Linked DNA regions of Homo sapiens. The protein of the gene in region 1 interacts with the protein of each later gene in a biochemical or structural test. Each region holds a gene or a part of one and is shown in the gene's direction. Other genes may lie near its edges. The genes, in order: NR1I2 and ATF3.

The links.
Region 2: the proteins of NR1I2 (region 1) and ATF3 form a complex in vitro, tested with the Homo sapiens proteins (one study listed by BioGRID).

The regions. Positions count from the first base shown.
Region 1 is NC_000003.12:119,780,643-119,797,124, forward strand, and holds the start of NR1I2 (nuclear receptor subfamily 1 group I member 2), read left to right. Parts: upstream 1-1,458; 5' UTR 1,459-1,658; intron 1,659-2,067; exon of another isoform or gene 2,068-2,115; coding exon of another isoform or gene 2,116-2,210; intron 2,211-16,482. UniProt on the Homo sapiens protein: Nuclear receptor that binds and is activated by variety of endogenous and xenobiotic compounds.
Region 2 is NC_000001.11:212,600,869-212,617,556, forward strand, and holds the start of ATF3 (cyclic AMP-dependent transcription factor ATF-3), read left to right. Parts: upstream 1-7,892; 5' UTR 7,893-8,062; exon of another isoform or gene 8,063-8,403; intron 8,404-9,971; exon of another isoform or gene 9,972-9,979; intron 9,980-14,149; 5' UTR 14,150-14,153; coding exon 14,154-14,393; intron 14,394-16,688.

The DNA.
Region 1 (16,482 bases):
ATTTCACTTACTCTTTTTCTTTCCAATATCCTCATGACATTCAATATTTCACTTACTCTAGGTCCTCCCTGCCTAAGGCCCAAGTCAACTTTCTGTCCAGTGGGATTTGTAATCCAATACCTCCTAGCCCTAGCAGAATCCCATGTGGATAATCAGAAATGTGACTGGAAAAAGGACAGAGCTCTATGGCTGTGGGTCCCAGTCCCCACTGCTGGCAGTAAGTCCCCAGCAGTGAGCTGTGTAAGCACCTTACATTCTGCGCTTGGTTGAAAACAGCAAGGCAAGCATCCACTTGAGAAATGTCAACCCCTAGGAAATCCCAGCCTCAAGTCTTTCTCATCCCTTGGGAAGTGCAAATTGGATAGAGAAGAAACCAATTAAAAACAAAACAAACAAATCATACTTAGATATTCTGGCTTTTCTCACCAGGGCTGGATTAAAGCATGTACTTCAAAATAATAACAACTTAAGTCAATAAATAAATGTAAGGAAGTCCAAATGTTCACCTGAAGACAACTGTGGTCATTTTTTGGCAATCCCAGGTTCTCTTTTCTACCTGTTTGCTCAATCGTGGTCTCCCTCTCCCTCTCTTGTTGGGGCCCATGCCCCTGCTTTACTGTTGCCAGAGGCTTGTACTTGTTTGCCTTTTAGGTAGGAGCAGTTACTTCCACTCCCCTCACCTGCCATAAAGCATCTTTATAAACAAAGCAAGTAGAAGAAACACATCCTGGTATCCACCACATTCGGCTTTTGTTGATTCTGTTCACTTGGGAGCACCTGCTGCTAGGGAATAAGAAGGTTGAGGCTGAAGAGTGAGGACTCTTCAGCTCCCCTCTGGCAGGACCCGGGAGAGGAAAGAGCCCTCAGCTGGTCCATCCTCCCCACTCCTGGTCAGCCTTCTGTTCTGAGATCAAAGTGGTGGGGTCACATTCTCGAGAACTGTGCTCAGCCCCCTCATCTCACACCCTTTCCCTCTCCCTGTGTGCCTGCCCCCCTCTTACATAACCATGCTGGTGATTGGCACCGTCATAAATCAATACTTTGCTCACTTTCACATCAAGTAACACTATCCAGGGAGGTGGTTTCAACAAAGGAGGAAGTATAAGGAGATCTAGGTTCAAATTAATGTTGCCCCTAGTGGTAAAGGACAGAGACCCTCAGACTGATGAAATGCACTCAGAATTACTTAGACAAAGCGGATATTTGCCACTCTCTTCCCCTTTTCCTGTGTTTTTGTAGTGAAGAGACCTGAAAGAAAAAAGTAGGGAGAACATAATGAGAACAAATACGGTAATCTCTTCATTTGCTAGTTCAAGTGCTGGACTTGGGACTTAGGAGGGGCAATGGAGCCGCTTAGTGCCTACATCTGACTTGGACTGAAATATAGGTGAGAGACAAGATTGTCTCATATCCGGGGAAATCATAACCTATGACTAGGACGGGAAGAGGAAGCACTGCCTTTACTTCAGTGGGAATCTCGGCCTCAGCCTGCAAGCCAAGTGTTCACAGTGAGAAAAGCAAGAGAATAAGCTAATACTCCTGTCCTGAACAAGGCAGCGGCTCCTTGGTAAAGCTACTCCTTGATCGATCCTTTGCACCGGATTGTTCAAAGTGGACCCCAGGGGAGAAGTCGGAGCAAAGAACTTACCACCAAGCAGGTATGGTTTTTCTTTCTTTCTCTTTTGCTGGGGGCTGACCGCCCTTCAGCTCCAGCCAAAAGATGTGTGTGAACACAAATATACCTTCTGTTTGAGGTCAGCATCATAGTGGGTCGTGAATCATGTTGGCCTTGCTGCTGTCTCCTCATTTCTAGGGTGGAAAAAAAAAAGCATGAAAACAATCACTTAATGTTGAGCCCCATTACTGATGCTCTCTGGTCCTGCACTAGCCTCCTAGAAAAATCACCACAGGAGAAGCCTTAACTACTGCATGAGTTACCACAAGTCACACATACAACCAGCTCCCTGTTACAGGGCTGGAGTCCCTGGACCCAGGAAATACCACCTCCAAGGACTGTGGGAGCTGGGGACTATGGGAACTGGGATCAACTCAGTCCTGATTCCTTTTGGCCTGCTGGGTTAGTGCTGGCAGCCCCCTGAGGCCAAGGACAGCAGCATGACAGTCACCAGGACTCACCACTTCAAGGAGGGGTCCCTCAGAGCACCTGCCATACCCCTGCACAGTGCTGCGGCTGAGTTGGCTTCAAACCAGTGAGTTTTCTACCTCTACTATTGAAAGGGCACCTTGTCCCACAGAACCGAGTCTTGCCTGCATGTGGTCAGTGCCACCAGGTCCTTCTTCTCTCCACTTTACAGCCCAGCTCGGCTGAAGCTATGGCCAGAGGCACTGCTTTAAGGCCACTCCATATCTAGGACAGGTCAACAGACACCTCTGAGGCCACTGAGTCTTGACTCAATGAATCAGCTATAGCAGGCACTATTCCTCTCCCACATGGCCTCTAATGATATGGTCAGAGTTGAAAGGATGCTAAGGGAGGCCTCAGAGGCTTATTTAATCAGTTGGTTAATGGGAAAAAGTATTTTGTGGTACACAAATACGCTTTAAAAATATTTTAGTTATGTCATAAAAGTCTAAACCTGGGGTTGACAAACTATGGCTCACAGGCTAACTCTGGCCCACCAGCTGTTTTTATAAATGAAGCTTTATTGGAACACAGCCATGCCCATTCGTTATGTATTGTATATGGCTGTTTTTGCCCTACAACATCCTTTCAACTCTGGCCATATCATTAGAGGCCATGTGGGAGAGGAATAGTGCCTGCTATAGCTGATTCATTGAGTCAGCAAAATTGACCAATTGCGAAAGAGACAGTATGGCCCACAAAGCCTAAAATATTAACTATCTGGCCTTTAACAGAAAAAGTTTGCCAACTCCTGATCTAAAAGCTGTCAACTTGTTCCAAAATTATTATGGAATAAACCCAAGACAACCACAAAACTGACTAGACTAGGTTTTTTAGGTAATAACTTTTTAAATTATAAAGTAATACATGATTTCATGCTCCTTGAAAATGAGAAAGCAGTATAGATAAACCTAAATTCACCTTTGGCCATTCTGTCAATCCTAATCTCCAGTTTCCCCAAAAGTACTTAGTGTGATATATTTACTGCCAGACCATTGTGTCTGTGTGTGTGTTCATCTATGCATAGATGGACTATTAAACCTATCTGTTGCCATGTTGTTCTAATTCTGTTTTTCCACTCAATAGCAAGACTTGGAGACTTTCCATATCTGTATAGAGCTCTACTTCATTTATTTTAACTGCTACGTCATATTTCACAGTGTACACTTCTTTTATTTAGCCGTTTTCTTTTCGATAGATATTTAAGCTTTTCCAATTTTTCAGTCTTACCAATGAACCTCACTGTGTTTGTCTGCTTCTAGACATGTGCACGTATTGCACTAGAGGAACTACTAAGACGTTGAATTGCCACATCACAGGATATATGTGGTTCAATTTTTGGCTGCCAAACAGCCCTCCACAGTACCCGAACCGACTGTACTCCCACCAGCAGAGAAGGATAGTTACTGTTCCTCCACACTCCAAACAATGCTTGCTGTTTATTCAGTATTTTATTATTTTTTCCATTGAATTAGTGCAAATGACAACCCATTATTTCAATATTTTAATTTCCCTGATTATTAATGAAGTTGAGCATTCTTTTTATAGGACCCCTCTTGGCCATTGTATTTCTCTTCTTAAATTACCTATTCATATCCTTAGCTTATTTTATGTCGGATTTTTTTTCTTCTTTGTAGGAGTTTTTTATTTATTCTCAATGCAAATTATTTGATATGTGTGTAATATTCTCTCTAAGCTTTGTTTAAATCATACTTTTTAGCCAACAGAAATTTTTACTATTATTGTTGTTGTTATTTTGATGTAGTTGAATCTGTTAGTTTCCCTCTTTCTGGATTTTACTCTTTGAGGCTGATTTTTAAAAGATTTCTCAACTTCCAAAATTATGAAGCTACTTTGGTGCACCTTCCTGTAATACTTTTATTTAAAAAGTTAGTCTTTATTCACCTGGCACTTATTGCAATACATTATTTCAATACTATTTATTGAAAAGTCCATCTTTTTCCTATTTGTTTGAAATATCACCTCTATCATGTACTAAATTCCCACTTACACATGTCCATTTCTGTGTCCTTTTGTATTTATTTCCTATTCCTGAGCCAATTTCCACTATAATGTTTACCTTTTCTACTTGATTTTTTCCCCCAATAAATAGAAAATCTATTTTGTGTTTTGATATTTTGCCTAGTTACCTTATGGAATTCTCTTAATAGTTATAAAAGCTTATCAGTTGATTCCTTTGGAATTTCTAGTTAGACAAACATATCATCTATATATAGTAAGAGTTTTGCTCCTTCCTTTCCAATCTTTACAAACCTTAATTTTTTGTGTCTTATTGGTTTTTCTTTGCCATTCAGCATAATGCTGAGTAGTAGCCATGAAAGTAGATAGTCTCAGAAGTGATGCATACAGTTGTGTGGGTTCTATACTGCACAATTCTAGGAGATACTCTTTACAAACACTTAGATGTCCTAGGAATTCTTGTCATGTTCCTGATTTCCATTTTTATTTTGTACTATGAACTCATTTGGAAACTTCTCTTTGGGACTTGTTGAGATTGAAATTGTTTTCCTCTAGAGGATTTATTTTTGCTTTTGCCAGGAACCTGAGGACAGAACTAACTGGGACCACCATAAGCTTGGGGTCTACTGGCCACACAAATAGTGAGAATCCTGACCCAAACTTACTTGATTGCAGGCCTGTTGTTAAGAATTTCAAAGGAGACTTTTCTTTTTGCTCTACCCAGAGCCAAGGCTGAGAAGGCCTGGGATAGACCTGTCTCCCTCCATGGTTTCTACTGAGGATGTCACCCTTAGGGGATCTTGAGTTTATAGTCTATGATCTGGTTAGGCTCCAGGCTTTGTCTCCTATTCTACCATTAAAATCCAGGCCCCAGGCCTACAGGAGTCCAGAAAACTCCAGGATGATCATGACTTCCCTTTCTCATGCCTCTGGCTTAGCATAATCTTATAAATTTTGGCCTCTTGAGACTTCCTTTACTTTCCTACCAGCTCAATCCTGCATGAAAAATGACATTCTTAAAAATTTAGTATTTCTAGGTGCTGCATACCAGGAGGATTTTCTGTAACCAACTTCTCCATCATAGTGCCAGCAATAAAATCTTTATTTTTTATTTTAATGAGATTGATTCTAATGCTTCTCCAATAAGATAGCTAGTAAAAGTGTTTAGTAACTATTCCATATCAAGTTAGTGAAGCTCTCTTCTATTCCTCTTGGTTAACCAAGAATTTTAAATCATGAATGAATATTGAGTTTTATTAAATGCTGTTAAGCATTGATTAATTTCCTTATCATATCTCCATAGTTAATTATATAGCTCATCCCAAGGGTGATAGAAGCAGAGATGATCCAATAGCCACTAGGACCCTTGGAATGCAGACCCATGATTTTTCCATTAAAAAGAACAATAAATTCAGGGAACGTGGACAACATTAATTCAAATTCTTAGTGTGGTTGCCACGTTCTGTTTGTTGAGCCATCAGACTCTTGCCCTCACACTTCAGATATTGGTGTCCTGGGCACAACCTGGGGAGGACAGGAGGAATGTGTAGGGAACCTCTCTTGCATACAGGGGCTTTTTAGGTGGCACAATTTGAAGGGGGCTGGGAAAAGTTCCCTGCAACACCTCCTGAACCTCTTTGAAACATCGATATAACAAACTGAATATCCAACTGGAAATTGACATAAAGAGACATATCCAAATCCCTCATGTAATGTTTGAAATAATTTTCCTGGATCTGTGTAAGTTCCAAAGAGTCAAACTATAAAACCACAGGCAACACTGGCACTACACATGCATTGATAAGACATAGGCAGTTAACTCAGAGGCCACTGTGTCCTGTTAAATATTGGAAGAGGGTACTGTGTGTACTTATGACCTGGGCTGGTGCCAGCTCTCAACCCTGATCTGTGTCTAGTAACCTTCTGACCTCTTGGATCTGATGACCAAGTCCCAGGAAGCATAAAGGCCAATTTTCATTTATGGCCCCCTGAAGAGAGCAGCTGACTTCTCTTTCTTGAATTCATAAACCGTGACTTTGGCTATCTGAGTTTCCTCTGGAGGCCTGCCCCATGCCAGGGCCAGTGAGGAGGTTTTGTTAATAATACTTGATTTGTTTCATAAAGAATTTAAAACATATAGCCTCATTTTGCCCCCATGAATTCTGTGAAAAAACAACTTGCATCATGTATCTATTTACATGACAGGAAGAATCAGAATAAGGGAAAAGAAAAGATGTTCTGGCCAGGCATGGTGGATCATGCCTGTAATCCCAGCACCTTGGGAGGCCGAGGCAGGTGGATCACTTGAGGTCAGGAGTTTAAGACCAGCCTGGCCAAAATGGCGAAAACCCGTCTCTACTAAAAATACAAAAATAATCCAGGTGTGGTGGCACACACCTGTAATTCCAGCTACTTGGGAGGCTGAGGCACGAGAATCATTTGAACCCAGAAGGTGGAGGTTGCAGTGAGCAGAGATCATACCATGGCACTTCAACCTAGGGGACAGAGTGAGACTGCCTCCAAAAAAAAAAAAAAAGTTCCGTCATTAATTGACTTCATGAACTGGAACACACCCCAGAGCCCCAGTTTCCTCATTTGCAAAAGGGATAATAAGAACTGCCCTGCCCCCGACTCCCTTATTCAACTTGGGATAAGCCCTGCCCTGCCTTCCTCACAGGCACCTTGACATGAAGTTGTAATTTTGAAATCATTTTGTAAACAGCAAAACTTGTGCAAATGTGAGTTAAATTCACCAAACGTCTCCCTTCACTGAACAACGTCAATGGTTTTATAGGCATCACTTGCCTGCATCTTAGAAATTCAGTATTCTTATATTACATTCCCCTTACTTGCTTTTTTCTCTTTATCCTCTGGCCAGTTCTGCTATTAATATGTGTGTGTGTGTGTGTGTGTGTGTGTGTGTGTGTGTGTGTGTGTGTGTGGTGTGTATGTGTATCTTGGAGATAGTAGGATGATTATATATATATTTAATTATGCGTGTGTGTATATATATGTGTGTATACACACATAATTAAATATATGTAATCGTGTGTATGTATATGTATGTATACACACACACATAATTAAATATAATCCTGCTATCTCCAAGAGTTTCTATCCCAAAGATTATGATTTTTGTTTTTTTATCCATTTACCCCCTTTTACTTAGACTCTGTTGCTTCAAATTCAAGTTGCCCACTCTTCTCTTCCCATAATCTCAGTGACCTGGTTCCAAAGCTTGTGCTTTGACTCATTTGAAGACTAAATTTATCTGTATGTCCTCCCCACATCCTTTTCCTGGGAAGGAACTATCTCACCCTCAAAGTACATTGACTTTTTAAAAAATTATTATTATTATTACTTTAAGAGACAGGGTCTTGCTGTGTCACCTAGGCTGGAGAGCAGTGGTATGATCATGGCTCACTGCAGTCTCGAACTCCTGGGCTCAAGTGATCCTCCCGCCTCAGCCCCCCAGAGAGCTGGGACTACAGGTGTGTGCCACCATGCCCAGACACTTTTAAAATTTATTTTTGGTAGAGACAAAGTCTCATGTTGTTGCCCAGGTTCATCTGAAATTCCTGGCCTCAAGTGATCCTCCTGCCTCAGCCCCCCTAAGCATTGGGATTACAGGTGTGAGCCACCATCCCTGGCCATCATTATACAAATTTATTTATTTATTTTCATTTGATTGAGACAAGGTGTCATTCTCTTGCCCAGGCTGCAGTGCAGTGGGACAATCATGGCTCACTGTAGCCTTGACCTCCTGGGCTCAAGTGTTCTTCCTGCCTCAGCCTCCCAAGTAGCTGGGACTACAGGCACATGTCACCACACTTGGCTAATTTTTTATTTTTTTGTAGAGATGGCATCTCACTGTATTGCCCAGACTTGTCTCGAACTCCTGGCCTCAAATGATCCTCCTGTTTCAGCTTCCCTAAGTGCTGGGATTACAGGTGTGAGGCACTGTGCCCGGCCTGTATATTGACTTTAAACAACAATTTATAATGTGAGTCATTTCACATATCTCTTTGATTATTTATTTTATTTCCTAGCACCATAAAGTTGTTTTTATTGACAAGATCATCTTCTCCATGCCAGTCTGTTTGTGTACTGCCAATTTTCTGTCTGGTTAGTTGGATTTCCCTGCTACTACTGCAAGTGTGGACTGCAGACCCATAGCATCAGCTCACCTGGGAGCTTGTGAGATGCTGAAGCTCAGACCCACCACAGACCTACTGAATGGGAATTTGCATTTTCATAAGCTCCTGGGTGATCTGTATGTACTTGAAAGCTGGAGCATCACTCTCTTAGATTGTAAGCACAGGCTCCAGGTTACCTTAAACGGGGGCACTTCTGAAGCAGGCATGGGAGAGAAGGAAGGCAAAAATCTCAATTGCCAGGGCCCTGACCTCCTAGAGATTAAAATGTAGTTCAGAACTCAGGTTGGGATCAAATGCACTTTAATTGACATGGTTATCTTTTTCTTCCTGATTGTAGTGCTTTTAACTACTGTATTAGTCCATGTTCACATTGCTGATAAAGACATACCTGAGACTGGGTAAATTACAAAGAAAAAAAGGTTCAATGGACTCACAGTTCCATGTGGCTGGGGAGGCCTCACAAACATGGTGGAAGGCAAACGGCATGTCTTACATGGTGTCAGGCAAGAGAGAGAATGAGAACCAAGCGAAAGGGGTTTCCCCTTATAAAACCATCAGATCTCATGAGACTTATTCACTGCCATGAGAACAGTATTGGGGGAACCGCCCCCATGATTCAATTACCTTCCACCAGGTCCCTCCCACATATGTAGCATTATGCAAGCTACAATTCCAGATGAGATTTTGGTGGGGACACAGCCAAACCATATCAACTATTGATGTTACTTTCCTTTGTTTCCTTTCTTTCTGCTGCTTCTCCTCCTCACAACTTCTGTTTCCTCGGGGCCCTTCCTGCTTCACAGCTTCCCTGTCCTGCCTTCTCTCTGAGTGCACTGTGGCTGCCATGCACAGGGCAGGACTGAGGCACCCCAACCAGTCTACTATTTTGGCTTCCTTTTCAATTTAAATTCAATTTAAATATTATTTAAATATTTGATCAACATTTATTTGGTGATGTTCTTTTTTTAATTTGTAAAATATACAGAAGGAGCAGGATTGAAAAATTAATTAGTTCTGGTAAAATTCAAATAACAAATTTTACCATCTTAAGCATTTCTAAGTGTATAGCTCAATAATGTGAAGTATGTTTTCATCGTTGTGCAGCCAATCTCCAGAGGTTTTTCATCTTTTAAGATGGAAACTCTACCCATTAAACAACTCCCATTCCCCTCACCCCACAGCCCCTGGCAACCACCATTCTACTTTCTGCTTCCATGAGCTTGACTACTATACCTCATATTTGTCTTTCTGTGACTGGCTTATTTCACTTAGCATAATGTCCTCAAGGTTCATCCGTATTGTAGCATGTGTTAGAATTTCCTTTTTTTTAAGGCTGACTCATATTCTATTGTAGTATGTCCCATGTTTTGTTTATCCATTCATCAGTTGATGAAATTTGGGTTGCTTCTACATTTTGTCTATTGCGAATAGTGCTGCTGTGAACATCAGTGTACAAATATCTCTTCAAGACCCCGATTTCAGTTCTTTTTGGATATACATCCAGAAATGGTTGCTGAATTATATGATAATTCTATTTCAATTTTCTGAGAAATTGCCATATTGTTATCTATAATGGCTACACCATTTTTACATTCCTACCACCTGAGTCCAAGGTTCCCATTTGTCTACAGCCTTGCCAACACTTGTTATTTTCTGTTTATGTGATAGCGGCCATCCTGAATATAAAGTGATGTTTCATTATGGTTTCCCTTTGCATTTGCCTTATGATTAACGATGTTGAGTACTTTTTCATGTGCTTGTTGGCAAGTGATGTTCTTTTAAATGTGTACTATGTTCTTTATGGTCAAAATAAATAATTTATTCTGTGTAATTTTCCAAACCACACAACTTCTTGGAAGGCATGTTTAAGTGTTCACATAATAAAACAGTACATTTCTTCCTTGCAAACAGCCCTACACCACATATTTTTCCATTTCTGGCTCTGTCTGCCAACTTCAATGGGCTGTCCTCAGGGTTGGGTTGGCTGGAGTGGCCCTGTGTGACAGGCATGTGAGTGTCCCTGAGCACCGTACAGATACTAGTCTGCATTGTCAAGGAGTGTTTTAAGTCTCCACCTCAGGGTGATGACTGCTTTGGTAGGAAAGGAGGCAATCTAAAATTCACCTGATTTCTGATTCATTCCAATAATGTTTTGGTGTCTTTGAATATGGCAGCCCCCTGGGCAGCAGTCCAGCCAGCAGACCTTATAACTTAGCTCTGTCTGTATGTCTGACATCCAGACTCACTAGAAGAGGATCTAAATGGGCCAGGGAATTACTTGTCCCTGGGACAGAGCAATTACACCATCCCTCATAGGCCCCAGAAGGCCTATGGACCTTTGCTTGGGCACCAGGAGCTTCTCTGAGAGCAGGTTTGGGGTGGGCTTGGCCTCCAGAGTGGCCTCCTCCTGCAATGTCAGGCTAGATTAACATCTATGAGAGTCTCCTGTACAAGGAGAGGTGGGAGGCTGTGAACACTCCTATGTAACACCATTTGTCCCCTTGTGTGATTGCTTCACCAATGTTGACAGCTCATGTGACACACCTGTCTTCTTCTGATGGAGGAAGGAAGTAATACCATTTTCTATCAAAAGCATTCTTTGATCATCCCTGTCCTAAAAAAAAGTTACTTGATGGGTCTCTTGTCAAAATCAGTGATATGGTTTGGATGTTTTATCCCTTCCAAATCTCATGTTGAAATATGACCTCTAGGCCGGGCTCAGTGGCTCACAACTGTAATCCCAGCACTTTGGGAGGCTGAGGCGGGCGGATCACTTGAGGTCAGGAGTTTGAGACCAGCCTGGCCAACATGGTGAAACCCCATCTCTACTAAAAATACAAAAATTAGATGTGGAGTTCAGAGTGGAAACAGGTGTGAGAGGGTTCAACAGAAGAAAACATAGCTGCCAAGTGTTTGAGTCCATCGGCAAGTTTGGACTGGCCTTAGCTGTTGCAGAAGGCATGGTGAACTCTGCCTTATATAACATGGATGCTGGGCACAGAACTGTCATCTTTGACCGATTCTGTGGAGTACAGGACATTGTGGTAGGGTAAGGGACTCACTTTCTCATACCATGGGTACAGAAACCAATTATCTTTGACCACCGTTCTCAACCACATAATGTGCCAGTCATCACTGGTAGCAAAGATTTACAGAATGTCAATATCATTCCGTGCATCCTCTTTGGGCCTGTCACTAGCCAGCTTCCTCGCATCTTCACCAGGATCGGAGAAGACTATGATGAGCGTGTGCTGCCATCCATCACTACTGAGATCCTCAAGTCAGTGGTGGCTCGCTTTGATGCTGGAGAACTAATCACCCAGAGAGAACTGGTCTCCAGGCAGGTGAGCGACGACCTTATGGAGCGAGCAGCCACCTTTGGGCTCATCCTGGATGATGTGTCTTTGACACATCTGACCTTCAGGAAGGAGTTCACAGAAGCAGTGGAAGCCAAACAGGTGGCTCAGCAGGATGCAGAGAGGGCCAGAACTCACTGGCCACTGCAGGGGACGGCCTGATGGAGCTGTGCAAGCTGGAAGCTGCAGAGGACATCACGTACCAGCTCTCTCGCTCTTGGAACATCACCAATCTGCCGGCAGGGCAGTCCGTGCTCCTCCAGCTGCCCCAGTGAGGGCCCACCCTGCCTGCACCTCCATGGGCCAACTAGGCCACAGCCCCAGTGATTCTTAACACTGCCTTCCTTCTGCCTCCACTCCAGAAATCACTGTGAAATTTCATGATTGGCTTAAAGTGAAGGAAATACAGATAAAATCACTTCAGATCTCAAAAAAGAAAAAAAAAATTTAGCTGGACGTGGTGGCATGTACCTGTAATCCCAGCTACTCGGGAAGCTGAGGTAGGAGAATCACTTGAACCCAGGAGGCAGAGGATATAGTGAGCTGAGATCGCGCCACTGCCCTCCAGAGTGGGTGACAGAGGAAGACTCCGTCTCAAAAACAAAAAACAAACAAAAAAAAAGAAACGTGGCCTCCAATGTTGGAGGTAGGCCTAGTGGGAGGTGTTTGGTCATGGGGGTGGATCCCTCATGACTGGTTTGGTACCCTCGGTAATGAGTGATTCTCACTCTTAGTTCATAGAAGAGCTGGTTGTTTAAAGAGCCCGGCACCTCCTCTCTCTCTTGCTCCCTCTTGCTGTGTGACATGCCGGCTCGCACTTCACCTTCCACCATGCTTGGAAGCTTCCTGAGACCTCACCAGAAGCAGATGCTGGTGCCAAGCTTGTACAGCCTTCAGAAGCACGAGCCAAACAAACCTCTTTTCTTCATAAATTACCCAGCCTCAGATTCCTTTGTAGCAATACAAAATGGACTAACACAATCAGATCTCACTGTAACTCTGGAAACTTGCTGCCCACCCATTCTCTTCTAGCCAAAGTCCACTTTTTCCCCTCCAGAGTTACCACAAGGAAAATGAACAGCCTCAATCCTTACCACTCAGGCAAGATTAAAGAGTTACAGTGCAGCAGAGAGGCAGGACAGGACCACCGTGGGCCAAGCGATCCCAACTCTGCCCAATCAGTGGAGGCTGCCTTCTGGAGGCTGTAGGGGAGGATCAGTTTCCTCACCTCTTCCAGCTTCTAGATGCCGTGGCAATCCTTGGCTCACAGCCCCTTCTTCCATCTTCAAAGCCAGCAACTTAGCATCTGACCCTTTTTCCACATTACGTCTCTTTCTCTGATCAAACCCAGGAAAGCTTTTCTAATTTTAAGATTCATGTGATTAGACTAGGCCTGCCTGGATAATTCAGCACACTCCCCATCTCCAGGTTCTGTACCCTCATCACATCTGCAGAGACCCTTTTGCCATATAAGGAAACATATTCACATGTTCTGGGGATAAGGGTGCAGACATCTTTGAGGGCCTTTATTCTATCTACCATAAGGACACGATCAAAAACATTATAGAGGCATGCCAGGCAATTAATTAATGAAAGTGTTATGACATTTTTCTGAATTCTGTGATGTTGTTACTTGTCCTTTTTAATGTCTGTCATTTGTTGTGATTTCTTTTCTCATTCTTTCTTACAAATATTCTCTTCGGTACATAATTTTGTATTTGTAATTGCGTGTTTTTTAAAATTATTTTTTAGACAGGGTCTCACTCTGTCACCCAGGCTGGAATGCAGTGGCACAATCCTAGCTCACCACAGCCTTGAATTCCTGGGCTCAGGCAATCCTCCCACCTCAGCCTCCCAAGTAGCTAGGACTACAGGCATGCACCAACATGCCTGGCTGAGTTTTTTTGTTTGTTTGTTTTTTTGGGGTGTTTTTTTTTGAGATAGAGTCTCACTCTGTTGCCCAGACTGGAGTTGTGTGAACATGGCTCACTGCAGCCTCGACCTCCTGGGCTCACGTAATCTTTTCATCTCAGCCTCCTGAGTAGCTGGGACCACAGGTACGTGCCACCACACTTGGCTAATTTTTAAATTTTTTTGTAGAGACAGGATCTCACCATGTCACCCAGGCATGTCTCGAACTCCTGGGCTCAAGTGATCCTCCCACTTTGGCCTCCCAAAGTGCTGAGATTATAGGTGTGAGCCACTCACCCAGCCTTTTTTTTTTTTTTTTTAAGAGATAGGGTCTTGCTATATTGTCCAGGCTGGTCTCATACTCCTCACAATTGATCCTTCCACCTCAGCCTCCCAAAGTGCTGACATTAGAGGCATGAGCCCCCACACCTGGCCTATATTCTTTTTTCTTAAATAGGACTGCCCAGGCCAAGCGCCATGGTTCATGCCTGTAATCCCAGCATTTTGGTTGGCCAAGGCAGATGGATCACCTGAGGTCAGGAGTTCAAGATTAGCCTGGCCAACATGGTGAAAAACCTGTCTCTACTGAAAATACAAAATTAATCTGGTGTAGTGGCCCATGCCTTGCGGTCCCAGCTACTTGGGAGGCTGAGCCAGGAGAATTGCTTGAACCCAGGAGGCACAGGTTGCAGTGTGCCAAGATCGTGCCTTTGCACTCCAGCCTGAGTGACAAGATTGAAACTCTGTCTCAAAATAAGTAAATTAAATTAAATAATGTAAAATAAAATAAAATAGGACTGCCCAAATTGTGTAAGCCTCAGAACCCACGTAAGCTGACTAAAGGGCACCTCTACTTGCCCATTGACTAACCTGAACACCAGATGAAATTGCTCTTCCAAACACCACTAGCTGGGGAGTTGGCTCTTGGCTGGGGTTGGTCAGTGCACAGGCCAGTAAGGGAGCTGGGCAAGTGCAGAAGTGGAGACTAGCTGTGTCCCAGACAGCGACTCTCCGGCTGTGACCCTGGAGAGTCCTTTAGCAGGGCAAAGTGCAACATAGGCAGACCTTAAGGGATGACTCAGTAACAGATAAGCTTTGTGTGCCTGCAGGGGGATGGGAAGAGGGTGGGGCAGGAGAGGGACATAAAAGGGCTCTGAGGCATTGTACTGTGAATTCCTTCAGTCTCCTGCTCTGCTCAGCCAGTCAGCCCTGCCTCCCTTGTTTAGGACCACACAGCACTGCTGGGTGTCTGCCTTTCCTTGTGACTCTTCTCTAGCCTCTGCATGGCCAGCAGCCCTCTTCTTTTCTCCTATTCTCTTAAGAAACATGCCCATCACCTGCAGTTTCTCTGGGCTCCCCGTTAATCTGCCTTCCTCATCTCCTAATGCTGCCTCCTCCCTCCCATTGCCGGTGCCTGGAAATAGTCAAGGCTGGGTTCTGTTCTTTTGCTTGAATTTCTTTCACTTGGCTTCTTGACTCTTTCTAAACTACAATCCCCCCATTCTCACTGCCTTAGTTTTCCCTCTCTCTGTGTTTCTCAAACTATATCCCACCACGCCCTGACAAGGGCTTCTCTCCTGTAGATCATCCCTTTTCTAGTATTTTGCTAGAAATATATAGTGGGATTTTCTCCTTTGCCCTACATCATCACTAAACTTCCCAACCTAATAGGCAGTGTCTTGCACCTTCTACTGATCATTTCATTCTTTCTTGCACTAAAGATGACCACTTCCCATGTCTGTACCCAATTCCTGTTTGGCCCAAATGTATCTGCAGCACTCACCCGTGTTCTCACACTGAGTCTCTAAATATTTGACTCCAAAGGTCACTAGTGGATCACCTCCCTGCCTCTCACTTTCCCCCAAGGCACAAAGTCTTCTCCCAGCACTTCTCTTTAGTCCTCCTCTTCCTCATGTTTCTTCTGTAGGGGGAGGACCATGTTCAACTTTGTGATTTTTTTCTAGTTTGTAGTTGTGATCTACCCTGTACCACTGAGTCATCTCAAATCACTTAAACACTCACACCAAGTGTACCGCACTTCACGGCTTAATCCCCTGTTGATCAGAAAACCCCAGGTCCCTGGAATTGAAGCAGGGTCTCATTCAGCCTGACATGACCTGAAATTTCTCCCTGACTCCTTTCCCAGCCCCAAGACAGGGGACTTGCAAGAGTCCCATTGTTGAGCCTCCTTGGAACCCACTGTCTTCCATTGGTCATGTTCCACCCAGCAGGTTCTATCTAGTTCTAATCCTCAATGCTGCTTCGCATCCCTTCCTTGCTCCATTGTCCAGCCCTGAGCTCACTCAAGCCTTGTACTGCTCTCCCCTTTTCCCTTCCCTCCCAACCCTATTCCTCTCCTCTCTACATACTCCTGGGAGCCTTGCTCCTTCTGTAGCAGAAACTTCACACACATTTTCTTTCAAATTCTCCTCCATTGCTATCTCCAGTTGCACCGCTCTTCTTCATTTCTTTCCCTCCACATTCAAACTTGTCTTCTCTGGAGGGCATGCTCTCCTGGGGGCTCCCCCTGGCCCAGCCTCAGCATGGCATCTGCCTTTCTGGTTCCTTCCCACCTTCTCTCTCCTCACTTCTTGCCCTGCCAGATCTGTCTATGGCAACAGCCCCTGCAGCAGTGCACTCTCCTCTTCCTCTTCATGCCCAAAGCCATGTCAGCCTCTCTCAGCAGCTTCCATTTTATTGTAGAGACACTAAGCATAGAGAAGTTAGTGAGTAAAGTGAGTTAGTTCAACATCAGTGGCAAGGGCTAGGACATGGCCTCCTGACTATGACAACAAGACAATGCCCACTATATCTCCAGCCGCCAGGAGCAAAAAACAAAGTCCTCTGACCTCCAGGAGGCTGCCGGCTAGCTGGGTCCTGTTTGGTCACAATCAGTCATTCCCATGTTTATGTGTGTGTCATTCATGGAAGACCT
Region 2 (16,688 bases), on another chromosome or scaffold:
CATACATACATATATATATAGTATATATATAAAATACCTACTATATTGCTGGACTTCTGCTTCATGTATATTAATTTGCCACCTAAACAAGATTTTTAACTCTTCAGGTCAAGAAATGCTCTTATATTGTCCTTGTAACCCCAAGGTGTCTAAGTAGACTGCTGAGAGCAGTGTCCGGTAATAGGACACAATTTGATGCATTGATTGATAGGCATAAACTCACTGGAGTGACTCACTTTGCCCTCAGCCACTCTAGTTTCAAGTACAAGTTCATCATCTGATGATTCAAGTTCATCGTATTTTGGGAAAAGAATAAAAGTCCAAAAAGCCCTACTCAGTTTACTCAGTCAATAACAGGGCTTATGTTTGTGGTTAAAGCAAATTATGAAATAATTGCAAATTTGGCAGGGGGGAAAGTATCCCTGAGGGCACAGGGATCTGGAATTTATTAAGCATGTATCCTCTGGGACATCAGGAGTAAGAATTTTCTGGTAAGGTCAACTCTAGAAGCATCTGTGCATTCAGCAAGACTTTGGTAAAGCGAGGGTGCTCATTTTCAACAAGGTAGGGAAGGCTAAAGAAAAGTAAACACACATCATGCTCTCTAAGATTTTGAGGACAGTATCGCTTAATGTAAGTTTTGAAATAAGTTAGATTTGTGTTTAAATCAAGTACCTATGAGCAATTTTCTTAACCTTTCTGTGCTTTGGTTTCCTCATCTGTAAAACCGAGATAAAAAACCTACCTCACAGGTTATTATAAGGATGAAATAAGATACTGGGTATTTTTAAAAGTGCTTACTATTGTGCCTGGCATGTAGTATGTGCTCAGTAAATAGTAATTACTAAATAGGACCTGGCCACACATCAAGTTTTTTTAAATTTGTTTTAAAATCAGTCAGTAAGCCAGCCTGAGAGATGGAACTTTCCATGAGGGTCTAGACACTTTGGTGTCTCAGGTTTCCATATGACTTGGTAGCTTCAAGGGTAAGGCGTGAAGAGGGAAAAAAGCAATATTTATTGAATGTCACTTTTGAGGGTGAATTGTTTTTTAATTTTGGGGGGTATATAGTAGGTGTATATATTTATTGGGCATGTGAGATATTTTGATACAGGCATACAATGTATAATAAAGGTGTATTGTTCCTTAATCCCATGATTAAGGAAACAGATATAAATGAGGAAACAGACATTATCCTCATTTTACAGGAGAAACTGAGGTTATAAGACCTTCTTAAAACTAAATAAGCAGTGGCAGAAAGAGGATTTGAACTCAGTTCTATCTGACCACAGGTTCTTTCTGCCATCCCTGGCTTCTACCCTACACCATCCCCTTTTCAGCCCCAAGGATAGTATGCCTTGCCAGCCACTAGCTAAGGTGCCCCTAAAATGTTTTAGGGTGCTCTTCTTACAATCAGCTTTTTTCACCTTGGCCCTATTCTTAGCAAAAGCAGCATCTCCCCAGGTGGAGGGCAAAAAAGGGGTTCACGAGTCTCAATGGCTGCTAAGGTTCCTTTCGGTATGAGAATTTATGATTCTGACACGATGTAGAGCCACATTTTTCTCTGTAAGCTCAGTTTCCTCATCCATCAAAGGAGGGCCCTGAACTGCATCAGAGCATCCCAAGTTTCCCGTGAGCACTTGCCAGGAGGTGGTAGGTATCGTGGTTGCGCACTCAGACTTGGGAGTCAGACTGCCTGGGTTGAGTCCTGCTCTACTGCTCACTAGCTAGGTAACTTCTGGCAAGTTATTTACCCTGTCTGTGCCTCAGTTTCCTCATCTATAAAATGGAGATGTTTACGGTCCATCAAAGGGTGGTTACAATAATTAAAAGCATTAACTGTACGTAAAGGGCTTAGTACATAGCACGGAACACCCAGAATGCTACATAGTAACATTTTACACTTAGAAAGAAGGGAGGGAACTAATCCTCTCAAGGTCCCAGGAATAAAACTTTTGGCAGCCGATGCTAGACCCAGAATGTATTTGATATCTTCTCTCTTTCCTTAGAAATCCTTGCATGACTTACATTCAAATTCCACATATCTATATATGTTTAATACAACACAATATTTTAAGGATTTTTTATTTAAGGCAGACACTCAAGTAAGATCTCCTTTGTTTATCTCATGGCCCTGGTACACCTGTGTGTGCTCATGTCCAGTTTGAGAAAATGGAAGTGAATGACTTCTAGGGTCCTTTTGGCTATGGTGTCTTTTAGTTCTGAGAATCACCGCCAAACATCTACACCTGCTCAGGTGCAGACTGAAGTGACCAGCTACCTGGTAGCCACTCATGTCACCAAACTGGCATAGAGATGCTAGAGCTGCCCGAGCTACACTGAGAATTTTGCCTGAAGGCACAGGGAGAAGCACAGCCTGGCTGCTCTAATTCTGTATTACTAGCCCATGCTGCAGACTACATTTTCTGCTTCAAGGTAGATGAAGAGGAAATAAAGGAGGATGGGAAGCAGAGAGGGGCAGGGATTTAAAAAAAGGAAAAAGCGCCTGCAGGATTTTTTGTTTGGATGTTAGGAAACAAGGAAAATGCACAAGTAGTCACAATCTTTGGGGGTCCTTCCATCTTCCACCATATATATGCCGTGTGTAGCATTTGAAGGTAGACATCAAGACTCATTCTTTAACCCCATTTAAGCATCCTGAGCAATGATGGTATTTGATATCCTTTCTCTTATAAAAATATTTGAATTTGTATAGCATTCAAGCAAAATATTAGCAACACTCTAAATTCTAAAAGTAGGGAAATGATTAAGTAAATCATAGAACATCCATTGGCAAGTTATGGTAATAAGAATCAGGATAGTGGTTACCTCTGGGAAGCAAAGAGGTCTACTTCTTGAGTGGTGAGTTCCTAATGTGTTTGATTATTAAAATGTGTGTGTATATATATGTGTGTGTGTGTGTGTGTGTGTGTTCTATATAATCTTTTGTATATATGCTATACTTTATAATAAGACATATTTTTAAGAAGAAAGACCATATACCATTCGAGGTAATAAGCAAAAGAGCAAATTTCAAAGGTGCATGCAATCTAAAATCATAACTGTATTTTAAAATCATGTACATGAGAAAAAAGATTAGAGGGAAACACACTACAGTGTTAATAGTGTTGAGATTGTGGGTAATATTTTTCCCTTGTCTGTTTCCCAAATTTTCATAATGACAAAAAAATTATAGTAAAACTTTCCCCAAAGAAATCTTTAAAACTATGAATCTTTTATCTTCAAATCACTTTCACATCTACTATCTCATTTGATTCTTACAACAACCTAGGGGGAGTCAATGCTAAGTGGTTACGTTTTATAGACTGGGAAACTGAGACATCGTGTTTATGACTTGTATACTCACTCAGTTGACTGGAGGTAAACCTGTGGATGAATCCCCGGTCTCCTGAGTCCTGCTAATCTACTGACTTCCAGGACTTCATCTTGGATTCTGGGGTCTCTGGATTCAATCTCTCAAATGGGAATATCTGCTACCTGGGTTTTGGCCCTGTAGACCAAGGTAGATGTCTATGGTTGTTGATGATGGGCTACACACAAGAAGTCACCAGAGATGTAATCCATGCCTGGGGTGTTCTGCCACATCCCTCTCTCACAAGGCACCTAGTCCATGGGGGTGAAAATTCTTGGAAGTATTGGAGGTGGGAGAAGGACAGGCTGTGTTTAAGTTGGACAACATTTCTTAACTCTAGTTTTTGGAGGGGAAGAAAGGTTGCAGAAATGGGTCTGTCCTTGTTCTATTCAGTGCCTTACCTATGATGTCTTCTCTCTCCCCATCTCTCTTAGGGAAAGTTGCCAGAAGCTCATAGGGTGGCTTTGGCAGAGGGTCCCCATTCAGGACCGTCAGAGCTCAGCCCAAGGCTCCTCACTTCAGAAAAGTTGGGAGCCTTAGAAACGGGGAGTGCCTTGCTCAAGAATACCAAAGACAGAACCAGACCCCAAACCCAAATCCCCTGCTCCTAGCCCAGGATACTTGGCAGGGCCATCCAGCATTGAGGAGAGCCCCAGGTGTGTGGTGGAGTTGCTGTGATGGGGAACGAGGATGGCTTTCATCAGTGTCTGCCTGGGCTCTCACTCCCGCCCCCTCTTGATTGTCATTCCTGGAGATCGCTTGACTTCATCCACTATTTTCCACTGACAAGTGATACTGAATGAGTTCCTGGAGAGATTCAAGGGTACCTCAGAAAGCTTCTCTTGATTCATAATTAATTAATGATACCACTACTGAGGGCTGACTGGGTGCCACATCCTCAGAGAAATGTCACAACAATCTTATGCATTAGGTGCTATTGTTAGTGCCATTTTTCATTTGAGGAAATAACTTACTTAAGGTGACACAGCATCTAAGTGCTGAATCCAGAATCCAAGTGCCTTCCACACTTTGGTGCCTACTGTGTGATGCTGCCCCTGTTTCCTGACAATGCCAATTTTGGACACTATTAAACTAGCAATCCCCACATTCAAACTGACTTTGTAGAAAGAGTGAGCTTCGGAAACAGAATAAAGTATAAGAAAATGGACTCCACTCCCGTTCCAAAGCGAAGAAGTAGGTTGAGCCAGGCAGACAGAGCTGCTAGTACTCTGCCGCTTCTCTGGCAGATCTTATCTTGTGTTTCTAGCATTCTGGGCACGAATACAGTCTTAGGGTTTAGAGAACAGAGTAATGGGGCAGAGGAATGTGGGAAGGGACTGTGCACTGAACTAAGAAACTGCTAGAACCTTTAAATATCTCAAACTTTTTTGTTTTTTCTTTTGCGTTTGGCTCCCTGCAATGTTTTTCTGTTTAGATTTGGTTGCCACGAGTGGGCTGTTTTTAGTTGCCTAGTTCCTTCCCCTCCCCTTTTAATTTTTTCCCTTCCTTTTGCACATGTCCCAGCATGAAGTCTCCAACTCTTATCTCACTCAGCAAAACATACCAAGGCTGATCTGAATGTGGATTCCCCAGGCAATTCACCATCATAAAACCTCAGCAATCTTCAAGTCTCTGCTTAACCCTCTTTCATTGAGGATTAACCCCTGAAATCACCCTAGCCAGGGCTTCCTTCTAAGGCGAGACAGCCATTCTTTTGTTTGCATGGAGAAGAGTTTTGGTGTGGAAAGCTTTTCTGTCCCCTCCACTTCATGGCACTGCCTGTGTGTGTGCTGAGAGTGTGCACACTGGACATTGGTGGCATTAACTGAAGTCAGGGTAAAATAAGGATGCAAAGGACTCAGATGTTGATCACTCTCCTGTGGCAAAGACCTCAGGGGCTCTGCCTTGCTCTGTTCTTTTCCAGTCTCTCAATTCAGCAGGCATTTCACGGTTCTCCTGGGGGCTGAGGGGAGGGAGGCAGGCAGGAGTAGTTTTCGTTTTCCCTGGGTAAGAGTTTCATTCAAGTGGGAGTGGACTTAGTTCTCTGTCAAGATTCTTATCACTTTTCGGGTTTAGAATATCAGGATCAGACTTCCGTGAACAGCTGACAGCATTTCTATCCAACTTGGAGATTCCAAACTAAGAGTAATTAGAATGAAGCAAGATTGATAAAAAGAACTGGAGGCACAATGGTAATAAGAATAACCCGACCGGGGTGTTGGGGGCTTCTCCCCCCACCCCAATTATCCTTCCCTTGCATTGTTTTGTGGAGGACGGTCTGGCTGTTTGTTTACTTGACGCCCTAAGTTGAATTTCCCCTTAAGGACAGGAGCAGATCTCCACAGATCTGGCTTGGGTGTTTTAATGGAATCATAGTTCAACCTGTAAACTGGTCAAAATTTCTGTTTCACAGCAGAAAGAGTAAAAAGCTTCACGTGTTCTCCCTCCTCTCCTTGCTTCACTTTATAATGGTGCTATTTATTCCAGAACAATCTATAAGTAGATAAAATAGCTAAGTAGAGATAACAAATAACTTCATTCAAATGCAAACACTCCTCCACCTAATCCCGCCCGGTGTCCGCCGGGCTGCTCCGACACGCCCGGGGTTTACCTGCGCGCACTCCAGCGGGAGGGCGGGTTGTGGAGGTGTGCTGAGCGGCGCGCGGGGGTGAGGGCGTGGAAGCGGAGGGTGGGGCCCGGAGAGCCGTTACCAGGGCGAAAAGTAAAGCGAAAACACCCGCCCTGCACTTCCCGCGCGACGCCGCTGGAAATCGGTTCAGGTCCAGAGCAGGATCTCGGAGGATCCCGCGTGGAACTCCAGGGCTCCCGGGTCCGCCGGGGCGCAAAGACTTCCGAGGCCGCCCTCCGCGTGTTCCCAGGCCCGTGGAGAGGTGGGTGGTCTGAGTGAGGTCGGGCTTGGCGGCGAGGAACCCCGGTGGGGGGAACTGGGGACTTCAAGTGAGACCCAGGCTCCAGACACCTCTAGTTTCTACCCCAAATTACCAAACTGTGACCTTCGGCCGCCTCTCTCCCAGAGGCAGGTGGAAAGGAGCAGGTGTTTCTGCCCTTCACCGTGCCCCCACACCCTGCGGCCGCGCAGGTCTCCCTCCCAGGCAGGTGCGAAAGTCCCAGGCCACACTTGTGTCTACAAATAGTCATCCACGGGCAGTCAAGAAGGTTCCTTGGTTCTGCCGCTCTCTGAGCAGAAATTGTTGGGGTCGGGGAATAAGAACCAGGAAATCGTTTTTAAGGTTCAAACCCAGTTCTGCTGAGGTCTCAGCTCGAATCTCGGACCACGGGGCCCCGCCTTTCCCGCCACCCTGGCTTGAGGGCAGAGGGGATTTCTGCTGCGGGTTCCGCCTGTGGTCATTGCGTCCCCATTCCGGGCCGTCCGGTCCCAGTCCAATCGGCTCTGGGAGCAGAAGAACACGTGAAAGCTGAACATGGGTTTTCCCTAAATATTGCCTGAGAGCGGGGCGACCCCCAGGCCTGGGCAGGTTCGCGGACCCCAAAGCACCTTCTCTTTCCCCCTCCTCCTGGCCGCTGGCTTCCGCCCCCTCCTACCCTCCCACCGGGTTGCCTCTGATTCCTCCTGGACTCCGATCTTTTCACGCTCTTGTTGGTTTCACTGACATGTTCTTGTCAATTTCAAACGCTTTGTGATTGTAAAAAAAAAAAAATCGAACCGATACGGTCCTACCACTCGCCCTAGTTTCGGAGCCCGGAGCTGTCCTGCGTGTGCGTCCATGTGGAGTGTCCGGGGCTGCGGGCTCGGGCGCACGGTGCCAGCCGAGGGCTGCCCTCCGCTTTTGTGTTAACCGGCGGGCTTCTCGCGGTCCCCGCCGCAGAGGTCACACCCGGCGGGTAACGGCGTGGATACACCGAAGGGTGACTTTGGACACCTTCCCCACACCACAGACTAACGCTTCTGCCCCTACTCCGCCCCTGCTAGAGAAGTAGGAGGCCAGTGGGGGAGGGGGTATTTTCCTGAAGCTCCAGAAAATGACCACGCATTTTAGAGAAAGGTCGTGCCCGCTTCCCAGCCTCACCTAGTCTGGGCTGGGGCCGGGACCCGCCTCCCCACCTTCCCCGCCCCCCCCGCTCTTCAACCTAGCGGAGGGACAGATGCCAGCGCGGTGGAGTCATGCCGCTGGCTTGGGCACCATTGGTCATGCCTGGAACACGCAGCAGCGAGTACGCACATCTGGCGGCTATCCCGGGCGGCTCCGGTCCTGATATGGAGAGAGAGGGCGGGCTGGTGTGTGTCTCAGTGAGCGAGGCTGGGGGAACGCGCCTGGGCTGGCTCCTCCCCGAACTTGCATCACCAGTGCCCCCTCTCTCCACCCGCCTTCGGCCCCGCCTTGGCCCCTCCTCCACCCCCCTTCCTCCGCTCCGTTCGGCCGGTTCTCCCGGGAAGCTATTAATAGCATTACGTCAGCCTGGGACTGGCAACACGGAGTAAACGACCGCGCCGCCAGCCTGAGGGCTATAAAAGGGGTGATGCAACGCTCTCCAAGCCACAGTCGCACGCAGCCAGGCGCGCACTGCACAGCTCTCTTCTCTCGCCGCCGCCCGAGCGCACCCTTCAGCCCGCGCGCCGGCCGTGAGTCCTCGGTGCTCGCCCGCCGGCCAGACAAACAGCCCGCCCGACCCCGTCCCGACCCTGGCCGCCCCGAGCGGAGCCTGGAGGTGAGCGCTGGAAGCCGAGGGAGTGAGCGCGACGAGGGCTGCTCGCCTTCATTCCCTTCGCGCCCCTCTAAGTAACCAGTCCGCCGACCCCTGACCCACCCCGGATCCGCGCCCCCAGCCTCCGGCTTGGAAATAACTCTGGCTTAAACTTCTTCTAAGCCACCGCTGCTCCTCGGCGCTTCGAAAAGTTTCCCGCAAAGCGAAAGAACTAACTTTCTCTTTTGACTTGGGGCGCGAAAGGTTCCTGGTGACGGAGGTCGGGCGTCCACTCTGCCGCCAGCCTCGAGCGCCGCTTCTCTCCGCCGACGGCGCTGGCTTGCCCGGCTGGGAGAGGGCGTAAGGTGGGTGGGCGGGTGCGTTGGGGTGTCCGAGGCTGCCTCGCTCGCCGTCCCGCTCCATCCCTCGCTTCGAGACACGGCACTGTGGGAGCCGATCCTTCCCGGGTGGGGGGGGGGGGGCGCAGAGAGGCACGAAGGCCGGAGGCTTGCGGGAGGGCTGCCCCACGCGCCGAGAGGAATGAATGGGGAAGGGGCGAGAGGGCGGGAGGCGTCCCGGGCGCGGCCGCTGGGGGTCGCCCTGGGTACCCCGCAGCACTGGCGGCAGGACCGTGAAGGCAACCCCGAGAAAAAGTTAGCTGGGATAAGCTTGGAAGTGGCGAGCGCTGGTGTCGCGCTGTCCCGGGGCGGAAGACGGGGAGGGCTCCCGGCAACGGCTGGTGTCCGGACCCCGAGCCCGGGACTCCCACACACCTGGGACTCTCACTCTGGCTTTTCCTTCGGCGGGTCCGCGGGAGACCCACCGTGGCGGGGAAGCGAGGGTGTGGAGCCACTTGTGCAGATATTTGAGAGAATGGCTTTGTGGTCTAGTGCCAGGACTCTGAGCGCTTACACTGCAATCGATGTCGTTGGGCCTCAGTATGCGGAGCCGGGAAATAAGGGCACATGGGCAGTACCGGCCCCCTCTGCGTGTTGGAGGGCACAATGCAGTGGTTGGACCAGATAACTACTAAGGTCCTTTCTGTCTGGAGATTTTCAGATTTTGGAGTGGTGTAGTGGGGAGAAAAGGAGCCAGTGAGGGGACTTGAATGGGGTGGGTCTCTATCTAATGTCATTCACCAGTGTCCAGACAGTGGGGGAAAGGGGACTTTTCTGCAGGGCATCTTTTCCCTCACCAGCTTTCTTTCCACTGGATTCGTTCTCCTTCTCTGCTCCCCCCACTCCCATTTTCATTTCTCATCTACTTCCTTTCCTCCTAAACATTTTCTTTTCCCTAATTTCATTGCATAGGTCACATATGCTTTCTTACAAATAAAATAGTTACTAAATCCTTGATGAACCCAGAAAGAAAAGGAGAGCCAGAAAATCTGGATGTTCTCTCAGTGTACCCCTTTCGTTGTAGGTGACAGTCATATCTTCTGTTCGAAGTTTCTGTCTCTGTAACTTAAAGTGAAGGCAAAAAATTGGTATTACTGTCCCCATTGTTTTGCAGTTAGCATTGGTTGTAGAATAATGCTACAACATACAGGCTCCTGCTTTGAGGATATCCTGGGCAAAGATGGGATGGGGTGAGGATTGCAGTTACTGTCGGAATGGTTTCAGAGACAGCAAAGAAGGCAGCACCCCACGCCCGCAGTGGGGATAAGATACAGCACCCAGCATCTGTGGCAGTGATGGGAGCCTTCTTTTTCTCTCTCTCTTCCTCCTTGCCCTTTAGCCATTATAGAATTCCTTTTTCTCCATGGCCGTTTTCTTCGATAGCCCCTCCCTATCTCAGTCCTGTCAAAGTCTCCTCTGTGATTGGTACCAGGTGCCAGGACTCTTGACCCCTTATCTACCTGGCTAATGGCTCTGTTCTCTGGTTGCCTTGTTGGTTGATCCCTTGAGGCGGTCGATACCTATTGGTGATGGAGCAAAATGAGCAGTCGGTGGGTGTTCAGCAGCTTGGCATGGGCTGGGCCACTCACCAGCTTTATGACCTCAGGCAAGTCATTTTTACCTCCCTGGACCAATGTACTCATTATGAAATGAGAATCTGACCTAGATGATTCTAATATTGAGAGGGTGTGATTTCCATTAGATAGAGTCCATGATTCCTTCCTTTTTAAAATTGGCTGGGCATGGGACAGGGCCAGTGGCTTCGAGTGTTTACCCAGCCAGGGGAGGAGGAAGGACATAGCCAAGATGCCTCAGAAGCTTTCCAAGGGAGAAATGGTTTATATGTGAGAATTGGTTCTCTTTCAAATATGTAATGCAGAAATGCTGGCATCAGCAAATAGTGGGGTGAAACCTACCTGGTCTGTGAAGAACTTGGGGTCAATGAGAGTACAAAAGAGGCTCTGACTGACCTGAATGTCTTGAAGGTTCCAGTTAATTCCTCACTAACAGGGCTTTATTGAATTGATAACAACAGAATGAGTTTTTCCTGAAATGGAGAAGATGGAGTCACAGTAGTAATGACTACCCGGTGTGTATGTAAATCTCATATGTCCTTCTCAACAGCCCTTTGGGGAAGGCAGTTTTGATCTCAAATTACAGAGGAAGAGAATGAGAGGCCCAGAAAGCCTAAGTGATTTGTTGGTGGATGCTCAGCTTATGAGTGGCACTGATAGGCTTAGAAACATTGTCTCTGGCCCTTGATGCCCAGCTTTGCACCTCTTCAAGAGGTCTGGGAGGAAGACCAAGATATGAAGAGTTAGTGAAAGGCCAGTACTGGCTTCCTAGTAACATAAGATGGTTAGCAAGCAATGCTTAGTGGAAAGAGGATGAAAATTAAAAGTGAAAATTCAATGTAGCTGTAGCTACTAGGAAATAAAAATCTGGGAGCTGAATTTCCAGTTAAAGGAATACATGAGTAAACTTTCACTTTCTTGAAAATGATGAAACTGCCAATGATACAACATGATTTCTGATTGGAAATAATCAAGCAGAAACAAAATGCAAGTTCTTGGTAGCAAGTCTGAACAATTTTATGATCAGCATAGAAAGTCAACTCTGATCTGAGGTCCCCAAACAATTTTTTTCAATGACCGGGATGTTTGAGGATCTCAACTTTCTGAAAAATTGTGTGAAGATTTAACTTCATTTCCTTGTGGGGACACAGCCGTAGTCTAGGCTGAATCATACCTCGAGAGACTGAGTAAAGGAATAACTAGAAAGTATCCCGAGAAGTTAAGCTTTAGCCTAGTGCCGAGAAAACCCAAATCTCGACAGATACATCTGTTTTATTTTCTGAAAGGCTTTTAACATTTTTACAACCATTTATGTCCCCAAGGAAGCCCACCCAATGCTTTTCATAAAAGCATTCCATACCACTGACATTCTTCAGCTTCTTTCATTGGGACTGCTGACTTTACATAAGAAGAAGGGTAGGGGGCGGGAGTCATAAACAGCAGACCCCAAGCCCTGAGAGCTCATTAATAAACCTAGTTGGATGGCAAAATGGAACTACACTCTACTGCAGTGGAATTCAAAGTCCCCGTGTAGAAGGGAGCCATCCAGGCCTCCAAACAAAGACCAGCCCAGTGGCAGCTCTGAATGTCATCCCCGAATCACTGAGTTTTTAATAAACTTGGAAAGGGAAGGGAAACATGAATGCATGGGAGAATCTTAAGCCTCTGGCTTTAGAAGGCTAGTTTCTCAGAGTTTATTGCCTGACAGCGACAAGTATCCTCCCAGCATCCTAAGATTATAGGATTAAATTGAGAGAAGAACTTCAGTTCTGACTCATGACACAGGGCTTTGGGAAAAGAATTACATACATAGCCTGGGTTTCTTTGACTAGTCAAGGGCAGATTTCATTGGCCTGGAAGTCTTGCCTCCATTGGTGTATGTTAGATCTCCAGGGGGAGTTTGAAGTCAGGGTATTCTATTCAGAAGCCTTTGAGATCAAAGTGGGTGACCAGCTGCCCTCCTTCCTGGACTCCACAGAGCCTCTGTCAGAGAGCCAGCCCTGGGCTGGAGAGATCTCTGGGAGGCCTAGTAATCATGGAGCTCCTGGCCAAAGAATGTTTTCCAGGGCATATTCATGTATTAGTTCCTCAATTCCTCATAGGATATTATGGGAAAATAGGGCGATTATTACAAGCCCTCTTTAACAGAGGAGAAAAAGCCACGGGGAGGTACAATGATAACACATAATGGAGTAAGTGGGCTTCAAATCTTCATCTTCTGACCTCAGTCTGGGAATTTTGTGGATAAGAGACCCACTTGCTCACACTCCCAGAAGGCAGTTAGCAAGCAGCCTGGGTATGCACCGTGACATAAAGATTAGCAGTTCATTAAACAGAGTTCAGTTTATCCCGAGGAATCTTTACTTAGCCTCCCCTCTATCACTTCATTTCCAGGCCTCCCACCTACCTTAAGGCCTGCCCCGAGAAAATTTGCTCTGGTTTTTTGTTTGTTTGTGCAATATAACATAATGCTTGTTTGTTTTTGTAATGTAGAATAATATTTGTTTGTTTTTTGCAATGTACAAATTAAGGGCATGAATCCTGGAGCCAAACTAACTTAATTCCAAATCCTGATGCTGCCCCATATTAATTCTGTGAATTCGGGCAAATGACTTAGTTTGTCTAAACCTCAATTATCTCATCTATAAAAGGCAGCTAGATCTTAACTCACTGGGTTCTCGTGAGGATTAAATGAGATAGTGCCCCTAAGGTTTCTGGTATGAAGGAGGCACTCCTTAAATGTTCGAGACTTGCCAGAGGGCTTCTTCTCTGTCTGGACTGTGCTAATGACCACAGATCCCCGGTTGAGAGGAATGCCCAGACCACACTCATCCTACACTCATCCCTATACTCATTGTCCCTTGGGAACCAACTGCAGGGAGGAGGGGAAATGGCCACCACTGGAGGGAGTACACAGCAGGCCAAGACTTATGGGGGACTCTTCCAAATTGGGGCCATGGAACTGTCACTATTTCTACTCTTTATTTTCCTTTTGTCATCCTTTTGGGTTCACCGAGCTATAGAATAACAGAGGGAGATGAATTTAGCAAATACATCACTGAAGCTTCTCCCTCGGAAGTTGGGCCCAAGCAATGGGAATGAGAAAGGTAACCTTGGACCGTGGGGGCCATTTGATTTGATGACCCCATCCCCACTTCATTTATCAGTTGGCCAATGAGGCATGGCGAGTCAGGCATTGGGCCAGGCTCTGGGTAAAGCAATGGTGGAGACTCAATGCTTGCATTGGAGGAGCTGTCAGTCATTTACCAGACACAGACTGGGTCCTAGAGAGCTGAAATTACTAGCTCAAGTCACTGCTGTTTAGTGCCAGAGCCAGCCCCAGGGTTCCCTGCCCCCACACCCAGCCTAAGTCTATCCCTATACCACAGGCCTGAACAACTCCCCCACAATACAGTGCCTCACTTTTCTTTAAGACCTTTTGCTTTGCCAACCTTAACCTTAAGAATCCACCTCCCCATCCCCTGCCAAAGACTGGGGTGAAGAAACGCACCTGGCTACAGTTACCTTTCTCATTCCCATTGCTTGGGCCCAACTTCGGGGGAGAAGCTTCAGAGATGTATTTGCTAAATTCAAGGATTCCCCACTTTTTGCTTTTACTTCCACTCACTGATAGTTTCAGCTTGACGTCAAGCCTCTTTGAAAAAGAGGCTTTTTTTTTTAAGTGAAAGAAACTTTATTTTGAGTAATATACAAAAAAAAAAAAAGAGAGAGAGAGAGAAAGAAAAAGAAGCTGAAAATGAGATTACTCATGATTTTTAAAATGGCCTCACTGATTTTTAAAAAATGTTCTTCCTCTTTCAGGACTGTTTGTGGCCACATTTGCACATAGGCACACCAGCCAAAACTCATAGATCTTGTGAATTCAGAGTAGCCTGAAACATCATCCCTTATAAATTTCAAATAGGCATTTTGTTCATGTCACTGAGCTATGTGTATTTTAAGAACCTGCTTTACTTAAGATGAGGATGGCATGAAATGAAAACAAAACAGAAACCCAAGGGCTTATGGGACTTTTCTCTGAGGGTGGGGCTCTGGTGTTGGAGGTCTGGTGGGGGAGGGGGACTTGATCCCATGCCCCAGAGCCCCTGAAACAGTTTGGGTTTCAATGTGTCTTTCAGCAAAATGATGCTTCAACACCCAGGCCAGGTCTCTGCCTCGGAAGTGAGTGCTTCTGCCATCGTCCCCTGCCTGTCCCCTCCTGGGTCACTGGTGTTTGAGGATTTTGCTAACCTGACGCCCTTTGTCAAGGAAGAGCTGAGGTTTGCCATCCAGAACAAGCACCTCTGCCACCGGATGTCCTCTGCGCTGGAATCAGTCACTGTCAGCGACAGACCCCTCGGGGTGTCCATCACAAAAGCCGAGGTGGGTTCTATCACAGGTATTCATTCTTTCGGCACATGTTTCGCTCGCAGCCACTGTGTGTTGGGCATGTTCTAGGCAGGGGGCTGTTGTTGAGAGTGAAACAAACAAAACCACTGCCCTCAGGGAGCTTACCTTCTCCTGGGAGGAGACAGAAGTACATAACATACGTAAGTACACGTTAAGAGATGAGTGCAAAGGAGAAAAAAGCAGGGAGCGGGGCAGAGAGAACGGGTAGGGATGGGGTTGCTGGGTTTAAAAACTTTTCAGGCCAGGCATGGTGGCCCACGCTTATAATCCCAGCACTTTGAGAGGCCAAGATGGGATTATCGCTTGAGTCCAGGAGTTTGAGACCAGCCTGGGCAACACAATGAAACCCAATCTCTATGACAGTATTAGCTGGGCAAGGTGGTACATGGCCTATAGTCTCATCTACTTGCGAGGCTGAGGTGGGAGGACCGCTTGAGCCCAGGAGGTTGAGGCTGCAATGAGCCGTGATCACCTCACTGCACTCCAGCCTGGGTGATGGAGCAAGACTCATTTTGCTTTTAGAGACAGTGTTGCTCCATCACCCAGGCTGGGGTGCAGTGGGGTGATCACGGCTCATTGTAGCCTCAGTCTCCTGGGCTCAAGCGATCCTCCTGCTTCAGCCTCCCAAAACACTGGGATCACAGGGATGAGCCATTGCACCCAGCCGGGGTTGCTGTTTTAAATTAGGAAGTCAGGTAAGGATTCACTGATAGTGACTTTTGAGCAGAGGTCAAAAGGAAAGGAAGAAGGAAAGAGGAGAGGGAAGAAGCCACGTGGGTATCTGGTAAAAGAAATTAAGGGCACTGAGGTGGAAGTATTGGTGCCTGGTGGGCTGTGCAGTGGGGCAGAGTATAGGGGTGGGAGATAAATAGGGGCTGGTCATATTGGGTCTTACAGATTATTATTGTATAGATGCAGCCCTGGGCTCAAAGTGAGGTGGGAAACCACAGAAGGCTTTTGAGCAGAGAAGCAACAAGATTCAACACACACACACACACACAGATACACACACACACTTTTTTTTTTGAGACAGAGTCTTGTTCTGTCACCCAGACTGGAGTGCAGTGGCATGATCTTGGCTCACTGCAACCTCTGCCTCCCAGGTTCAAGGGATTCTCATGCCTCAGTCTTCCAAATAGCTGGGATTACAGGTGCCCGCCACACGTCTGGCTAATTTTTGAATTTTTTTAGTAGAGACGGGGTTTCTCCATGTTGGCCAGGCTGGTCTCGAACTCCTGACCTCAGGTAATCCGCCCGCCTCGGCCTCCCAAAGTGCTGGGATTACAGGTGTGAGCCACCACGCCCAGCCTTGATTTATATTTTTAAATGATCACCCTGGCTGTCATGTTGAGAATGGGCAGTAGGGGTAAGACAGAAGCTGAGTGCACAGAAAGGAGGCCGTGGCAGGAATCCACGTGAGTCAGGGGGCCTGCAGCAGGAGGGAGCAGTGCAGGTGCTGAGAAGTGGTTGGCTTTGGATCTGACTTGAAGGTAAAGCTGATTTGCTGATAGATTGGATGTGGGGTGTAAGAGAAAGGGAAGACTCAAGGGTGACTGAGTTTTCTGGCCAGCATAGCTGTAAGAATGGAGCGTCCATTTGCTGCTGAGATTTGGGATTATAGGGGTTAGGGTGGTGGCAAGAGCAGGAGGTCTGTCCTATTCTGCAGACCCCTGTGGAGATGTCAAGCAGGCAGTTGGATATGTGAGTCTGGAGTTCAGAGGACAGTCTGGGCTAGAGATAATAGAGTTGGAAATTATCGGCATATAGATGGCACTTAAAGCCATGAGTCAGGATGAGGCCACCTTCTGTGTCCAGTTGTTCTGAAGAAGCTTGGAGCGTGGTGGTCCCTGTTTTTATCACTACTAGGACCCAAGCACCCAGACAGTAGAGCAAGGACCAGGCAGCCTGCCCCACCCTTCCCTGTAGCAATGTTCACAGCCTTGGGACCAGGTGTTGCTCCAGGTTCACTTCTGTCTGACACACTTGCACTGTTCCACGCTTGGCAACCTTGGGTAAGACTCCTGGAATAATAAACATGGTGAGAAGTCTGGGAGGTGGCTTCTGGCGATGCCATAGTGGCTTAAGGATGTCAGAGCTGAGGTTCCACCATTTTATTGGCCTTTTCCTCATGGTGGCAAGTGGAAGTGTTTCAGGCTTACTCAACTGGCATGATTGCAGCCTTTGGGCAAGGAGTAGTGGGACTGACCTAAAAGACTGTCCTAGTTCACCACTTGCAGGTGGCACCCCAGCATGGGCCGATTAATGCCG